Regions from separate parts of the Homo sapiens genome. Here region 2 is linked to region 1. Evidence: fine-mapped expression QTL. Tissue or cell type: whole blood. Region 1 holds a variant in brackets; the other region holds the start of a gene. All regions are shown on one strand. Distances are from middle to middle.

Region 1 (8,104 bases):
TTAATAGCTCTAATTACGAGTTTCTAGTGGCTGAGCATTGAGGAGATAAGAAGGGGCTTAGTTTTCCTTGCTCTTCAGTCCCTCCCATTCCTTTCCCAAATACGAGATTTATATCTCCTTTTGCACCCACTAATATGCCCCAGCCACAATGGCCTGTTATCACGTCCTAGGGATGACACAGTCCTGAGGCCAGATCCTTTTGTCACCTGCTGCTGGGGACTAGGATCAGCTCGCTGATGCAGATTGTCCTGGGAGGTTTCCATAACAAAGTTGGGCCGGGGAGCAGGAATTCCCTCTACTCCTGAGGGGTGGCTGGTTCAGCTGGAGACGTCCTTGTTCTCAAACTTCAGCAGGCTTCAGAATCGCCTGGAAGGCTGGTTAGGCCACCGATGGCTGGGCCCCACCCCAGTATTTCTGATTCAAGAGGTCTGGGGTGGGGCATTTCTAACAAGCTCCAGAGCTTCTGCTCTTCTCACTAAGCTATGTTGACTCTTAAAAGAATGGAAATATATTTAATTAACATTACTGAAGTGGTGTCGTGGCAAAAATCTGTCACTCCTGCTGGTCCAGGGACCACACTTTGAGAACCACTGAGCTAGAGAAACGGGAAGGGCAGAACTGGATGGATGTGGCCCCTTCCTGTGAATTTCTCTTTCTTGGAGAGAGTGTTTGTTTGTTTTTTCTCTGAGTCATCTAATGAATCTTCATGATTTCTGTTACTAAATGTCACTGTTGAGTAGCCTGATTTGAAATGGGGTATGAGGCAGTCCTGGAAACACAGCCCCATCTGAAGTCGGGGTGGGGTTAGGGGTCCCAGGCCTCAGTTAGGGAGTGGGCTCCTTGTCCACACAGGCTTCAGGGCTGATGCTGTCTTCTTGCCTCAGCTGGCATGCGTTGGCCTCCCAGGGCCCGGCAGGGCTTTCTTCACAGCTGGGCTGACTCATCTACCAGGGCAAGCCAGGGCCACAGGCACTTGCTGACAATCTGGGGTAATTTGACACTAGACTCAAACAGACACCTTGAAGAATGGACTGCCTTTTTTTGGCAGGATGCAGTGACCTGTGACTGCTACGTGAAGGCCTGGGCACTGCTGAGGTCTGGACAGAGGTAGCCTGATGATCTGGCCAGGTGCTCAGCTCTCTGCAGTTGGCTCACTTCCTGCTGTCCTCTGTGCTTGGCATTTGACAGCAACTTGTCAACTCAGCATCAGATTTCAATGCTGTCCTGATTTTCCATTCTTCTGTTACCTCCTGTCTTGGGCTCACCACAGACTCAGCAACTTGACTTAACTTGGTGTTTCTGGATGTCTTCTGTAGAAATAGCTCTGACTCACTGGCCCTCCATCACCCCCTCATCCTGTAAGCCAATCAGCATGGGAAGACAGTGGGGTTTTTCCATGTACCTCTTTGGCTGCCTTATTGTTGATATCAAGCCACTTCAGCAATAGAGATTCATTTCATAAGAGAACTATGTGATGTTCCAGTAATGTCAGAGCAAGGAAAGCTTTCCATTCATGTGGATCAGAGTTAAGGAAGAAGACGAAATGGAATCGTGGCCTCCTGTCATTTGTGGCAGGCCCCTACACCCCTGCCCCTGAAGTTCTGAGCACAGCCCATGATCTGTCAGGAGAACAGCAGGGATCTGCTTCTGGCAGGATTCTGCTCTGTGGAATCACAGATAAGCGGTTCCTATTTTTCTTCCAACACTGCAGAGAAATGACAAAATCCAGGGCCAGAATTTTCATGAATTAAATAGAGTTGGAATGGATCTGAGAGCTCGTTGGGCCAAGGGGTGGCAAATGCATTTTATTTGTGCCAATAGCAATTGTTTGGGAGGGGCTGGATAAAGCTCTACATTAGAAGCCTACTTTGAGCTCAGGCAGAAATGGTACCCTGGTCTTACAGTCACATCTGTCTTGGGCATAGGATGAGAAAGTGGTCACATATTGCCATCACTGACCCAGCTCTGTTCTCTCCATTTATGGAACAGGAAGCTAGGTCCCAGTGAATGAAAGGTCTTTCCCAGTTCCTACAACTTGTTAGTGGTAAATTTAGAAATAGAATCTAGGTTTTCTGGCCTTATTTCAGTAACATTAATTCAATACATTTTCTTTCTTTCTTTCTTTCTTTTTTTTTTTTCTTGAGATGGAGTCTCACTCCCGTTGCACAGGCTGGAGTGTGGTGGTGCAATCTCAGCTCACTGCAACCTCCACCTCCCGGGTTCAAACGATTCTCAGCTTCCCGAGTAGGTGGGATTACAGGCATGCGCTACCATGCCTGGCTAATTTTTATATTTTTAGTAGAGACGGGATTTCGCCATGTTGTCCATGCTGGTATAGAACTCCTGACCTCAGGTGATCTACCCGCCTCGGCCTCCCAAAGTGCTAGGATTACAAGCGTGAGACACTGTGCCTGGCCAACATTTTCATTCTCATTGGAATAGATGCTTTGAAAACAATTGAGTCTGAGTTCAAATCCTTAATCCATCATTTACCAGCTGTGTGACCTTGAGCATGTCACTTAATGTCTCTGTGCTTCTGTTTCCTCATTTATTAGATGGAATAAACACACCCATTTTACTATTGGGAGGATCGAATGTGATCATGGTATGTGTAGCTTGGGGCCTCACCTAAATATTCAATGTATTTTTTTTTTCCAACAGCAAATGACATGCATTATTAAGATGACAGTCTTGGGGACAGTTTGCACACCACAGTGATGGTATAATTGTGTAATTGTAGATCTAGCTTCCTCTCCTGTGAACTAACAGTTTGGGACCAGATTACCTTGAATTTTCCTCTAGCTCTAAAATTTCTATGATTGTAAATAAATGACTTTAATAGATTTTTCTTTAGCTGTTTCTATGAGCTGGTACTTGGTAAAGGAGCCCTGGAGGGTTTTCTGGAGTCAAACAAGGGTCTTTCCAGGTGCAAAGGGCATATTCAGGATTCTAATCTCTTCTATGCTGTGCAACTGATGGTCTGAGACCTCTGCATTGCGGTAAAACGAATTTTCTTCTCAGCCTTTCAAGGGCAGGAAGTGGTCTGAGTTATCAATGTCCCAGCACCCTGCATGAGCCTAGGATATGGAAGGTGGCTGACTTCACCTCTAGGGCTTGAGAAAAGCAGTCCAAGGCTCATCCATGGCCAGGGACTTGGAATTTACAAGGCCTAGGACTGAATGAGCTTGTGACTCTGGGCCCCTGGCCCAGTCACTTCCTCTTGCAGCCTGTTGATCATTCCATGCATTAAATCCGGAAGCTGCTAGGTTACGCTCTGTCCTGG[C/G]GGGGTGTGGCTAAATAGGCAGTGAGGAAATGCTGCAGCCTCTTTCACAGGGGACTGGATGGGGCCGTAACACATCGAACAGCTGTACCTCCTCTGAAAAGCCATTTCAGGTGAACCAAAGCATTCTGCCCCTACGAGGAAGAAAGGGAGGCAGTGAGGAGAGAATCAGGCCCAAAGAGCTGGGCCCAAGTGACATTTATAAATAGGAACATGGAAACTCACGGAAGAAGCCAAGCAAGGTAAAGGAGAGTGGGCAAGTCTCAGTGAGACCATTTAAGACATAAACAGCTAAGGAGAGTCTTTGAGGGCCATTATGTAACTGTTTTCCCGAACCCAGATCATAGGAGCAATTTGTAGCTGGAAAGAGAAGCATCGGAAGCTTTGGTGCTTACCTTTGTTCATTCATTTATTCAGGCACTATTCACAGCCTCGTGTGCCCCAGACTCTGCTAGCATAGGAGAAAGGACCATAACAAAGGCATTGTCTCTGTTTCCAAGATTCCAGAAATGTAACCAGGGAGGAAGGCATATAAATAGCTTGCAGAAGCAACTGTAATTATCACAGTGCCATGGCATCCACTGTTGTGTTAAATCGGGTTTCTCTTGGTGGATGTTCATTGTGGTGTCTGCCTGGAACTTGTCCGCTTCTCGGTGGAAATGCAGCCACCTTCTTTTAGGAGTATTGTTCCTCATCCCGTCCCCCTCTGAGTAAGCGCTGTCTGTCTGCACTCCTCTGACCCTAGTGATAGTTAGGAGAATGGCTAATGACCACAGTCAGGGCAATCAGAGTTCTTTCCTGGGATTCCTGTAAATGGACCTTGGGAAAGAAGAGCTTTTATTTTTTTCTGTTTTTCTTGGAAAGTGAAGCTATAAGGGAAGGCCAAGTGCTGTAGAGACCAGTCTCCTGCCTCAGAAAGATCAGCAGTTGAGGCTGGGTGCGGTGGCTCATGCCTGTAATCCTAACACTTTGGGAGGCCAAGGCGGGTGAGTCACCTGAGGTCAGGAGTTCAAGGCCAGCCTGCTCAAGATGGTGAAACCCCGTCTCTACTAAAAATACAAAAATTAGCCAGGCATGGTGGTGCACACCTGCAATCCCAGCTACTCCGGAGGCTGAGGCAGGAGAATTGCTTGAACCTGGGAGGCAGAATTTGCAGTGAGCCAAGACTGTGCCACTGCACTCCAGCCTGGGTGACAGAGACTCTGTCTTTAAAAAAAAAAAAAGTGGACAGTTAAGAAAATAAAAGGGATAGCCAGAGAAGCAGAGATAAGACACACACACACACACACTCACACACACATACACACACACTCACACACATACACACACTCACACACATACACACACTCACACAACATACACACACTCTCACACACATACATGCATATGCACACACGCACATACACACACTCACACACATACACACACTCACACACATGCACACACAAACACTCACACATACACACACTCATACACACACACACACACACAATGCAAGAGGGAGAAAATGAGAGGGAGAGAAAAGCAGATAGTTGAGGGCCTTTGAGTCCCTGGTCTTACTCTCTGCCGTACTTCTGCAGTTTACAAACACCAGCTACTCACTTCCCTTTTTGTGTTTTTGCTCAAATTCAGTGTCTGTTGCTTACCATTAAGCGTCCCATCTAATAACAATATAGCCCCTACCAAGAAGAGAGGGAAGGGAACTGGCATTCCTACCTACTAAGGACCAAGCATTTTTTAGGCACTTTGCAAACTGCCTGACTTAATTCTCTAAACAACAAGTGAGGTAGGGCTCAGCAGCCCCTTTTGATATTTCAAACAGTAAGAGAAGTTAAACAGCTTGCTCAAAGCACAGCAGTAGGAGTGAAGCAGAAGCAGGAAGTGGTATCATGCCCTGGGGTTATAGAGGTCAATCGAGAGATGCTGTCTAGGCCTTCAGGTAGTTCACAGGATTAAGCACATAGTCACAAAGAAAAATGTATTAGGTTGGTGCAGAAGTAACTGCGGCTTTTGCAACCACTTTTTTTTTTTTTTTTTTTGGAGCTGCAGTTTCATTATTGTTGACCAGGCTGGCATGGTCTCAGCTCATTGCAGCCTCCACCTTCTGGGTTCAAGCAATTCTCCTGCCTCAGCCTCCCAAGTAGCTGGGATTACAGGCACCCGCCACCATTCCTGGCTAATTTTTTTGTATTTTTAGTAGAGATGGGGTTTCACCATGTTAGTCAGGCTGGTCTCAAATTCCTAACCTCAGGTGATCTGCCCGCCTTGGCCTCCCAAAGTGCTGGGATTACAGGCATGAGCCACCGCACCCGGCCTCACAACCACTTTTAATGGCAAAAACCACAATGACTTTTGCACCAGCCTAAACTCTGGCAATCAGTTTTGAAAATAAAGAGGAAGGAGGTAGAGGAAAATCCCGACTTAAACCGAAGACTAAAGGATGGGAAGGAGCTGTGGGCAGGAGGGAGGAGGGGCGTGGATAGCCAGTGGACAGAACAGAGGCTGGGAGGCAGGAGAGGCCAAGGCATTTTTGGCAGGGAGCGGGGACACAGTCGGGGGAGGCTGTTGCAGTGATGCAATGACGGCACTGAAGTAGAGGACACGGATGTCAGGAGCAATGGAGGGATTTGAGGGAAGTGGCGGGGGGACTTGGCAGGACTCAGTCACAGCTTGGACATGGTACAGAAAAGGAAGCAAGGCTGGCTTCCTGGTTCAGAGAAGTAAAGAAAGATTTCCATGTCTGGGCTGACAGAGTGGGACAAAAAAGTGGACGCTTTCCAGGGGTACTGAGTCTGTTTGGGATGCGGAACGGTGAGACGGAAGAAGAGAAAGAAATGTACTTGTCATTTTAATTACCATTGGGGGTTCGGCTCACTTGGTGCAGTGGGTAAGAAAGCCAAAATTAAATGCAGTGAAATTTGTCCTGAAAATGGAATTCCTCAGCAGGTTAGAGAACCCTGTGCTAATAGCAATGGCTTTGACAATAGCTCCCATGAGGCCTGTCTTAGAGCACAATGCTTTGCACACTTCTGAGGCACTCAGTGTCTTTTAATTTTTAAGGAGGAAGGAAGAAAAGCAGAAAAAGAGAGACAAATACTGTATTCTAATTCTCAAAACTATACTTCAGTCAGCCAGCCAGGATCCTACACTGAGAACCCAAGTTTGTAGCAGAGCAAAGCCACTATATCTGCCTTCTCAGGACCTTCTTCCTCTTTTGGAGACAGGGTCTACTGCCAAGGCTAAAGTGTAGTGGTGCTAGCATAGCTCACTGCAGCCTCAACCTCCTGGGCTCATGTGATCCTCCTGCCTCAGCCTCCTGAGTATCTAGGACTATAGGCGCATGCCATCAAGCCTCGCTAATTTTAAAATATTTTTTATAGAGAAAGGGTCTTATTATGTTGTCCAGGCTGGCCTTGAACTCCTAGGCTCAAGTGACCGCCCCCTGCCCGCCTTGACCTCTTAAAGTATTAAGATTACAGGCGTGAGCCACCAAGCTTGGCCAAGGACCTTCTTAAAAGCTACTTTGATAATTGCAGCAATTAGCTTTGACATTGTTTTACTTCTTCAAGTAATAACAGAAAATACTTTATTCAACTGTTCAACCTTGGTAATGGTGTGAATTGAGTGTGGTACAGCCACACTGGTGTGTCCTTCACAACACTGGGGGACACTGTTCACAGACACAACAATGTGTTTGTGTCCTGGGAGTGGCGTGTGCTTGACCAGCAGGATTTGACAGTGGTCTTGCATGAGAGGACCTTAGCTCAACTTCAAACTTGGTTTCTTCATGGTTGTGTGACTCTCTGAATGAGTCCCTTCATCTCTCTGGACCTTAGTTCTATTGGCTGAAAATGGGGAAGCAAAATTGGACCAGATCAATGTTTCCAAAAGCATGTTTGCTAGAACGATCAATTCTATAGGCTATTTTTAGGTGTTATTTGATAAAACAGGTTCCAAGGTCAAAAAGCACTGGATTAAAATAAGTTAATATAGTGTGGCCTTTTTGTAAAGAAACTGTAAGATACAGATCTACAGAAACTATAAGATATGGATAAGTGATAGAAAACACTTAATGTGGAATTAAAATTGCAGAGTTTGACATTTTTGACCAGGAATTTTTCTTTTTTAAACTGGTCCTGCTCTAGCTGGAAGGCTGCATGTCATTTTATGACTGGAGTAGCTATATATATATGTATATATATATATATAACTTTTTCAACTACAAAAGACTGTAAATTGATTATAGTGAAATTGGAAAATGCAGATCAGTGAAAAGAAAATTTAAAACCACTTAGGGAAAACAAATATTTATAAAATGCTTCATTTCAAATGTAAAAACTAAAGTTACCCACTACCCTATAGAAATCCACAGTGATAACATTTTGTGTATTTCCTTCCAGACATTTTTTTCCCTCTACATGTGTCAGCACTTCCCAGATGTGATGATGGTATTTGAAAGAGCATGATCTGGAAATCCTGAGCCGTGCTGCCACAAGAAAATGGATGCACAGAGGACAAGGCCAGGCAGCGCAGGTCTTCATTACACTGAGACTTTGCCTGAGTCCCATGGTGCCCCAGTGCCCTGGCCTGGGCACATCAGCACTGCCTTCTGTCCAGGCCCCATGAGTCTCAGATGGTGGACCCTGGTGACGGAAGGCTGGGTAGATGCCATGGACCTTTCCATAGGTCATAGCCACAGCTGAGCACTTGGTGTCTTACTACTCAGTGGAGAGGAGAAGTGTGCTGAAGGGTGGTAAGAGAGTGTGTCCAGGGGCCCAGACCAGAGTGGGCCATGCCTCATCTAGAGAGCAAGCATCTTCCAGA
Region 2 (8,104 bases), 180 kb before region 1:
TATCAGAATTGGACTAAATTATACCACCAGCTTTCCTGGGCCTTCAGCTTGCAGACAGCAGATAATGAAACTTCTCAGCCTCCATAACCATACCAGCCAATTCCTCATAATTAATTTCATTCTGTATATATTTCTATATCCTATTGGTTGTGTTTCTCTGGAGAACCCTGACAAATGCATTTAGGGAGAATTGACATCTTATACTACTGAGTTTTTCAATCTTGAATTGGTATTTCTCTCCACTTATTTAAGTCTTCTTTAATTGTTCTAATAAGACTTTGTGGTTTCCATTGTGAAGAAACAATTTATTCACCACCACTGTGATGGGGCAGAGGCCTTCCAGGGGTCAGAATACTAAGGCAGGAGCTTGATGGATGAGAAGTGCAATGAGGAAATTGCAAAAATATGGGCAGAAGAAATGATTAAAGGGTCCACTAGGTAAAGCAACAATTTCAAGAATTTTAAAGCAGAATAGCTGGGTGTATAAAGTTTCATCAATGGCAGGCAGCAAACAGCTGTGTGCCCTGCCAGCAACAGGGAAGCCAGGAACTCTGGAGCGTATTTATATGATGCAGCTTACCATGGACTGATGATTCAGCAGCAATTTTTCATGAGGAGGAAACTGTGATTGTTAACCGAGGTATGACAGTTGTCCTCTTTAAAAGCGAAGAACAGGCTGGGCTGAACTCAGGCCAAGTTTGCCTTCTGGGCTTTCCTTCCTTCTATCTTCCATTTCTGTAGCCCCTCCAGCCTGCTAGCATTTCCTCTTCAGCACCATCATATTTCTTCGGAAACTCCCCTTTGCCACCTGCATCTAGACCTGCTCCACAGCCCCATAAACGATCCCCAAATTATCTCCCTCCCTAGATCCTTCATCCATTCATATTTAGGATATTCAGGTGTTCAGAGAAGGAAGTGGTTAGGGGATGCAGTTAATACACATCCATGTATTAAATGACAGATAGCTAGGTGGGCATTTCTCAAATGAGGGTCCAAAGACATAATCGTAGAGATTTGAGAGGTCCGTGGGCATTTAGATAATAATAGCTAGTATTTATTGCATGCTTGTCATGTATCAGGTGCTGTTTGAAATGCTTTACATGTATTATTTGGTTTCACTATAACATTACAAAGCAGATGCCCTTATCTATATTTAACAGGTGAGCAAACTGAACATGTTCTTATTCCCATTAAACAGATGGGCAACCACGGAAAGGTTGATCAGCTCAAGGTTACACAGCTAAGAAATGACAGTATAAGGACTCAAATCCAGGCAGTCTGAGTCTAGAGCTAGTGCTCTCAACCCCAATGCTGTCATCTGGGGCTCAATTGAGCCTGGATGGTCCAAGATGCTGTCATGCATGTTTGGCAGTTAGCTGGGGCTGTTGGCTACGGCCTCCTCCTCCATTTGGTCTTTCCAGCAGGATACATCAGACTTCTTTATGCAGCAGCTGGATTCCAAAAGGTAAATGTCTTCGAGGCAATTTTTCCATGTGGAAAATTACCTTGATGCAATGGCAGCCTCCATGTATACACCTACAGGTCACGAAATAGATAGGCTTATAGGCCAAATTAAGAAGCTTAAATCACATTATCTGGTGGTTCTAAAACGTATCCTCAAAGGTTTTGGCATTACTCCTATTAAGATGTGGGGTTTATATCCCTTTCCCTTGAATAGGGGCTGGCCCTAGGGGTTGGCTTATAGCCAGTAGAATACAGTGGAAGTGATACTGTGTGACTTCCAAGGATAGGTCAGAAAACGCCACAAGCCTGCTTCTTTTTAGACATTCACTCTGGGGAAAGCCAGCTGTCTGGTGAGAAGATCACCATGCTGGAGTGGCTGTGTGAAAGTGCTCTGGTTCTCAGCCCCATTTGAGCTACCAGTCAGCCATGTCAGTGAGCCATCTTAGCTATTCAGCCCAGCTGAACTTTCAAATGACAGCAGTTGTGTTGAAATCTGATTGATACTACATAAACGACTCCAATAAAATAACTGTCCAAGTAAGTTCTTCCCCAATTTCTGAGCCTCAAAATTAAGAGCAAAATAAATTGGCTAATTAAACTACTAAGTTTTGGCATAATGTGTCTACCCAAAGAGCAGCAATAATAACCAGAAGAGTTTACCAACCAACATAAAACAGAGTGAGAAGCAAGGGGAAAGAGATAGGGTAGATTAATAAGCTTAGGATAGGCTGAAGGACCATAGCACCTAAATTCTGTTTTATGCAATGTTCTCATGTCTTATCCCTCTCCACCATCCAGTCTTCTCAGCACATAGTGTGGCTACAAGGACCAGACTGGAGAGTAAGTAAGGTGACTCAACAGACTGAAGGGGCCTGGGCTCAACATATGTCTGTTCTGTTACAGAGCTGAGGGGCAAGTGTGTCTGGTTATAATGGTAGCTGGCATTAGTTGGCTTTGTAGCTGGGGGTTTATCTGCTTTTCTTGGGAAGAGATTACATGAGGCCATAATAGCGTTACAATGGGTGTTACCAGTAGGTATGCAATTTAGGGATGACATGGCTGTAAATCTGAAGATAGTATGATCTGTACCTTATTAATACTTAAAAGTCCACTTTGTCTTTCTGCCTCTATCTAAAGCAGCATTTTCATTTGTTCCATCCTTTTTATCTATGTTCAACCCATATCCATTCATTCTATGTGTAACCTTTCTCATAAGTGACTTGCTTCTACATTTTAGTTTCTCTTGTTTTATAATAGAATTAAATATTCTATAGTAATATAGCAAAAGCATTACAGCAAACCCCAATGAGCAAACATGTATCATATCACGTTTATGATGTCCTCCTATTTATTGACCAAAACAAGTCAAATAGCCAAGCCCACAGTCAATGTAGAGGTGGACCACACAACGGAGCGGATAATAGAAGGTGTAGTTCATTGGGGATCACTACTATAACAATCTAATACTAACACATAGTTAGGAGACGGTTGATCCAGGGATCGAACTTTCCACAGTCTGTCTCTGGAGGCTACACACTAAACTACTATTCTGGAGGTGGTTGGGAATGGGTTCTTACTGAAGAACTTTTTTCAAACCTCACTTCCCAGGTCTGGGGCCTGTGATCCACCCCAGTGAATCAGAATATCTTGGGGGTAGGAAATTGTGGGGGGGATGGGGTGGTACTCCCATGAGCCTGAGACTGAAATAGCTCTGCAGAGGATTCCAGTGCACACTAGGGAATGAAGGGGGTTTCAAAGACAAGGAAGATATACTTTATGCACTCAAAAAGCTTTCATTTCCACAGAGAGCATTCTTAATTGTTGTTATTACATCACAGAGGCATCACCTTGGAATTTAAAAAAGAAGCGATTCCTTTCAATGTTTAAGAGACATCAGTGTTTCTCAAGCTTTCGTGTGTGTTATTACTGGAGGGCTTGTTAAAACCCACATGACTGGGTCCAATGTCTACGTTCTGATTCAGGAGGTGTGAAGTGGGGTCCACTATTTCTCACGTCTAAAAAGCTCTGGGACACACTTTGAGAACCAGAGTTAGAGAAGTAGGAGGCTTTAGTGGTAACAATCCTCCATTATTCAGTTTAATATTCTACTTACATGTAGCACATTTACTACCTACAAGTTTCCGGGCTGAGTGCAGCACTGTTTATGATAAGGATGGGATTTAGATCTTGATTACGCTCCAGCAGATTTATTAAGTGGATTTATTCTCTAAGGGTGCCTAAGCGTCATTAGACAGGTTCAGATAAAGCAGAGATCTCCTCCCTTAGAAGAGATTAGGGACAGCTTAATGAAGTAGGAGACCTTTCACCTGGGCCTTGAAAGATGCCTAGGACCTGGATCAGGGGAAATCGTGGACAATCAAATTATTCTTCCCGCTTTAGCACAGAGACAAAAAAATCACAAGCAACCACTAGGAAAGGTCTATGACATTCTTGCCTCTGCCTCTAGCATTAACAATTTGCATGCCAGCTGCTGGAATCTGAACGGGGAGGACTGTTCTCGTGTCAAGGGCTCAGTCTCAGACCCTCCTTGGGCAGGGGTGGAACTGGCTTCGCTTTCTCTTTGGGGCGCCCAGAGCGACTGCATTAGAGCCGGCCTGCTCGGCCGAAGCGGCGGTGGGCGCTGACTTGGCGAAGGGCGCAGCTGGGGCGCTTCGTTCCGGAGCAGAGCGCCGTGATCCCGTCGGGGCTGGGGTGGCAGCGCAGCTCTCCGCCTGTCCAGAGCGGGGCCGCACGCCGGGGCACCTTTCAGAACAAGCTCCAGATGTGGCCCCAGGTTGGGGGCCGGGTGGCAGCTGTACTACCCTGGCGGGCGAGGGGTCCAGAGCTCGTTTTCCCTATTCCGATCTGTAGGTTTAACGCCAGCACAGGGTGGCGCACCCTACCTCCTTCCACCTTCACGCACCAGCGCGGGAGGGGACGCGTGTGCACGCTCCTCCCCTAGGAGGGAGGGCGGCCCGAGAGCCTGCAGACTGCGCCTGCGCAGCCTCGCTCACACACCTCCCCGCCCCCCCGCACCTCCTTCCCCTTTCGCCCCGCCCCGTTCCCACTTCTGCTGCCGCTAGGGGTAGCGGCGGCGGCGGCGGCTGCGGCTCGGGAGCGCGGCTGCTTTGAGGGCTCGGGAACCTTACAGAGTGGGGACGTGGGGAGGCTAGAGGGTGAGAAAGCTGGCGGGAGAGTAGGGCGGCGCTGGAGGAGGGCGGTGCGTGGCTGACTCATCCTCTGGAAGATCAGACTGACAGAGACACACACTAGCCCGCCCCGCCCGCCCGCGCCGCTCCTCCTCAGCCGGGAGGCGCCCGCCCGCACCGACCGCCCGCCCTCTCCGGGCGCTGTCCGGGCCCGGCCGTCTCAGAGAAAGTTTTTCCCATCGGAGGGGCGGGAGCCGCCGCGGGCCTTTTGGAAAGGAAGTGGGGACGGAACAGGAGGCGAGAGCCGCGCGGGCCCGCGGAGTGCATGGTGCCCGGCGCCTCGGCTGCCTGGCAGGAGGACCTCGGGGCGGGGTCGAGCTGAGCCCAGCTCCTTCTCGCCTCAGCCGCGCCAGAAACCGCCTTGCCGGACGGCCGCGGGGGTCCCAGCTCCTCAGCTCGCCATGTCCCGGCTGCTGCCGCTGCTGAGGAGCCGGACCGCGCGCAGCCTGAGGCCGGGCCCGGCCGCCGCCGCCGCGCCCCGCCCGCCGTCCTGGTGCTGCTGCGGGCGGGGGCTGCTGGCGCTCGCGCCCCCCGGCGGCTTGCCGGGCGGCCCCAGGCGGCTGGGCACGCACCCCAAGAAGGAGCCCATGGAGGCGCTGAACACGGCGCAGGGCGCGCGCGACTTCATCTACAGCCTGCACTCCACGGAGAGGAGCTGCCTGCTCAAAGAGCTGCACCGCTTCGAGTCTATTGCCATTGCCCAAGGTAAGGGGGGCAGGTGGGGGGCGAGCCCGGGGGCCCCGACGCCCTCCTCTTCTCGCCAGCCCACCGGGAGCCCGCTGCGGCCCTGGATCTTGGACCCCCGCCGCCGCCCCCCTTCCGCCCCCCTCGCCTGTCTGGCCCCACGCCTGGGACGGCTGGGGGCGGGGAGACTTTCCGCCGCCCGAGTTTCCCCCAGGCAGGTAGGACGGGCGCGGGTCGTGCCAGGCAGCCGAGGCCAGCGCTAGCTACTTCCTCCCCAGCCTCCGAATCCGGAGCTTCGGCCTAAAATGCCAGTTAACGCTGTTGGGATTGAGTTTTGATTTGCCCCGTGCCTCCCCTCCCCAGCCCTCCTGTCCCTTAGCCCTTGCTGCTTTCTTGCGAGCGTGCACCCGTGCAGGTGGCATGCTGTGCCTGCTCCGAGAAAGTGCTGCAAACCCGCCTGGCAGGAAGAAACTTTTTGAACGGTTATCAAATGAAGACGTATGGGTGGGTAGCCAAAAGAAGGGGTGTAGCTTCGAAAGTCAGGGATGCTCATAGCTGCTTGTTTCCACACATGTCTGATTGCGTTAATTTCAGCAGCCAAAGGAAACATTTTCTCCAGAAATGGAAAGACAGATTCAAGTTAAACTCCAGTTTTGGTTTTTCCCAGAGGTTGAAAGAATGAAATAAATAAGGAGGTATATTTTTTGGAAATCTGTGGCTCTGTAGTAAAAGTCAGACTGATGCTCAAAAGTAATTGGGAATGATGAAAGCAAAACGATTTTTAAACTAGCATGTTAAAATAGGATATTTCTAAAAGGAGTCCAGAATGGGGTAGGGCAGAATTTGAGTCTAGGTGAAAAAGCTAAAAGTTCAGAAAATAAAAAGGATGAAAGGAGCAAACGACTAAAATGGATGTCTTAAAATATTTCTGCCACTTAAATACAGTTATGTAAACAAAACACATTGCTTCAGTTTGTATTACATTCTGATGTGTTTGAAAGTTTTAAAAAAGTTTACTCTCCTCTCTAAACTTGGTAGGTACATAAACATCTCATAGATTCCAAAGTGTAGAGCACATTGATTCGGATCATGCCATTTGATTTGCCAGACTTGAAAGTATATCTTTAGCTGATGTGCAGGAATGGAGGAAAGAATTATCTACCTCATGTAAGCAGGACGTTATCTGTACTACTTCAGAAACTTGTTTTAGTTGTGGCTTTTAATCAGATGTTTTCCCCCTCAGTTCAGGAAATTGTGGACCAATTTATAGTGGATGATTGATTCCAGACATTGTTTACCCACAGTGCTTTTACAGGAAAATGTAACGTCCGATCAATTCCGTTATTCAATGTGTAATCATGATGTTATATGCAATCATAATGAAACACTAGCACATTTGTAATCTATGTGTGCACTCAGTATGCAGTTTAAAAATAGTCAATTCTGAAAATATGCTCCTTGGAAAAATAATATAGTCAGTCATGTACTAGAACATTAACTTTTGAATCTTTCTGCACTGACAAGACTATTTGAACACACATTTTACCTTTTCCAAGTAATTTCTTGGAAATTCTGCATTGTCAACAAGTTACAAGATTGGAGGGCCCTATGAATATAGTTTTGTGGCAGTTCTTGAAAAACATGTCCTGCAAGGTGACTGAATAATTTTTTTCTCATACATTATTATTTTTTACATGCCAGCAGTATTGCAGTAGCAATGCTACATTTCCTAATAAAGATAATATTTTTAAATTTAACGTGGTTTTAAATATTCTGAAAAGGACCTAAGCACTTTAGTCAATGGAGATCATTAGCATCAATTAAACTTAGTTATGTTACTAATATGAGAGAGAAATTAGTAATTTAAATTGTCTTCTTTGCTCAGGAGAAACAGTCAAGGATATTTGAAACAATGGTTAGTCAGATGCTTATCTCTCCTCTTTATATGCTAAAGAACATCAAAGTTTAAATCAGCTATTTTTGCTGATGTCGATGACAAAATGATTGTCCTATGAATCAAATGACACAGATGCTGCTGCTTTGTTAGTGTATGTAGTCTTGGTGTTCACTTACTGTTTTCAGTATCAATACATATAGTTATGGAGATAACTAGAATCATCACTTAGGAAATTACCTTATTCATTAATCATTAAGGTAAAAGGGATTTTATTATGTTGGGAATGCGTACAGCTCATTCCATTGCTGAAATCAACAATTTTTTTCCAGCCAGATAAATGAAAAACTCCCATGTTTTCTTTTATTGTTGCTTTTTGAATAATGTTTTGAAGTACTCAACCGATGTATTGTGTGTGTGTACTAAGTGTACTTTCTAACAAAATTAATTCTATTTAAAGGGCTATTTCTTGCCATAGGCAATCTTGTGTGTCTTTGGAAAGGGTGCTTGTATAAACTAATGAAGTGTTTTGGATTTGGTATGGAAATGTTACTGAAAAAATATCATCCATGCTTTGATATGGCAGTGGAATCTGCTGTTGAAATTTGGCACATTTGCCCTTATCTTTCTTATATGTTTATCAGTAGGCATGTGATATAATCTGTGATGAGATAAAGCTTTGGAATCAGTTCGTAATAGATAAGGCAGACCTTGTGGGATATCTTATCATAGTTAAATAGAATATTGTGATTTTTAAAATTACAAACCAATTTCTTTCCCAATTTAAAAAAAAGTTGAGTTTGCGCCTTCAATTTACCTGCTCAGCCTGATCTCTCTTCTTCCAGAAACAGAC

The links. PIP is the estimated chance that this variant, and not a neighbour inherited with it, causes the effect.
Region 2: it holds the start of TMEM65, and the variant in region 1 is fine-mapped to the expression of TMEM65 in whole blood (TOPMed, PIP above 0.99).

What each region holds. Positions count from the first base shown.
Region 1 is chr8:124,193,121-124,201,224 of GRCh38, reverse strand. LOC124902015 (a long non-coding RNA gene) reads right to left here. Exons shown (of 2, transcript XR_007061086.1): 2 at 6,835-7,125. LOC101927588 (a long non-coding RNA gene) reads left to right here. Exons shown (of 3, transcript NR_125420.1): 3 at 7,681-8,104. Among named protein-coding and RNA genes, the nearest start is that of FER1L6-AS2, 26 kb to the right of the region's middle. RefSeq lists a silencer at 4,758-4,807 and enhancers at 4,998-5,047, 5,088-5,327, 5,358-5,417. The variant C/G (reference allele first, on the strand shown) is at 3,284.
Region 2 is chr8:124,369,128-124,377,231 of GRCh38, reverse strand. TMEM65 (transmembrane protein 65) reads left to right here and starts at 4,531. Exons shown (of 7, transcript NM_194291.3): 1 at 4,531-5,378. The coding sequence starts at 5,075. RefSeq lists enhancers at 3,969-4,158, 4,370-4,664 and silencers at 4,389-4,618, 4,739-5,008, 5,139-5,268, 5,319-5,448, 5,459-5,508.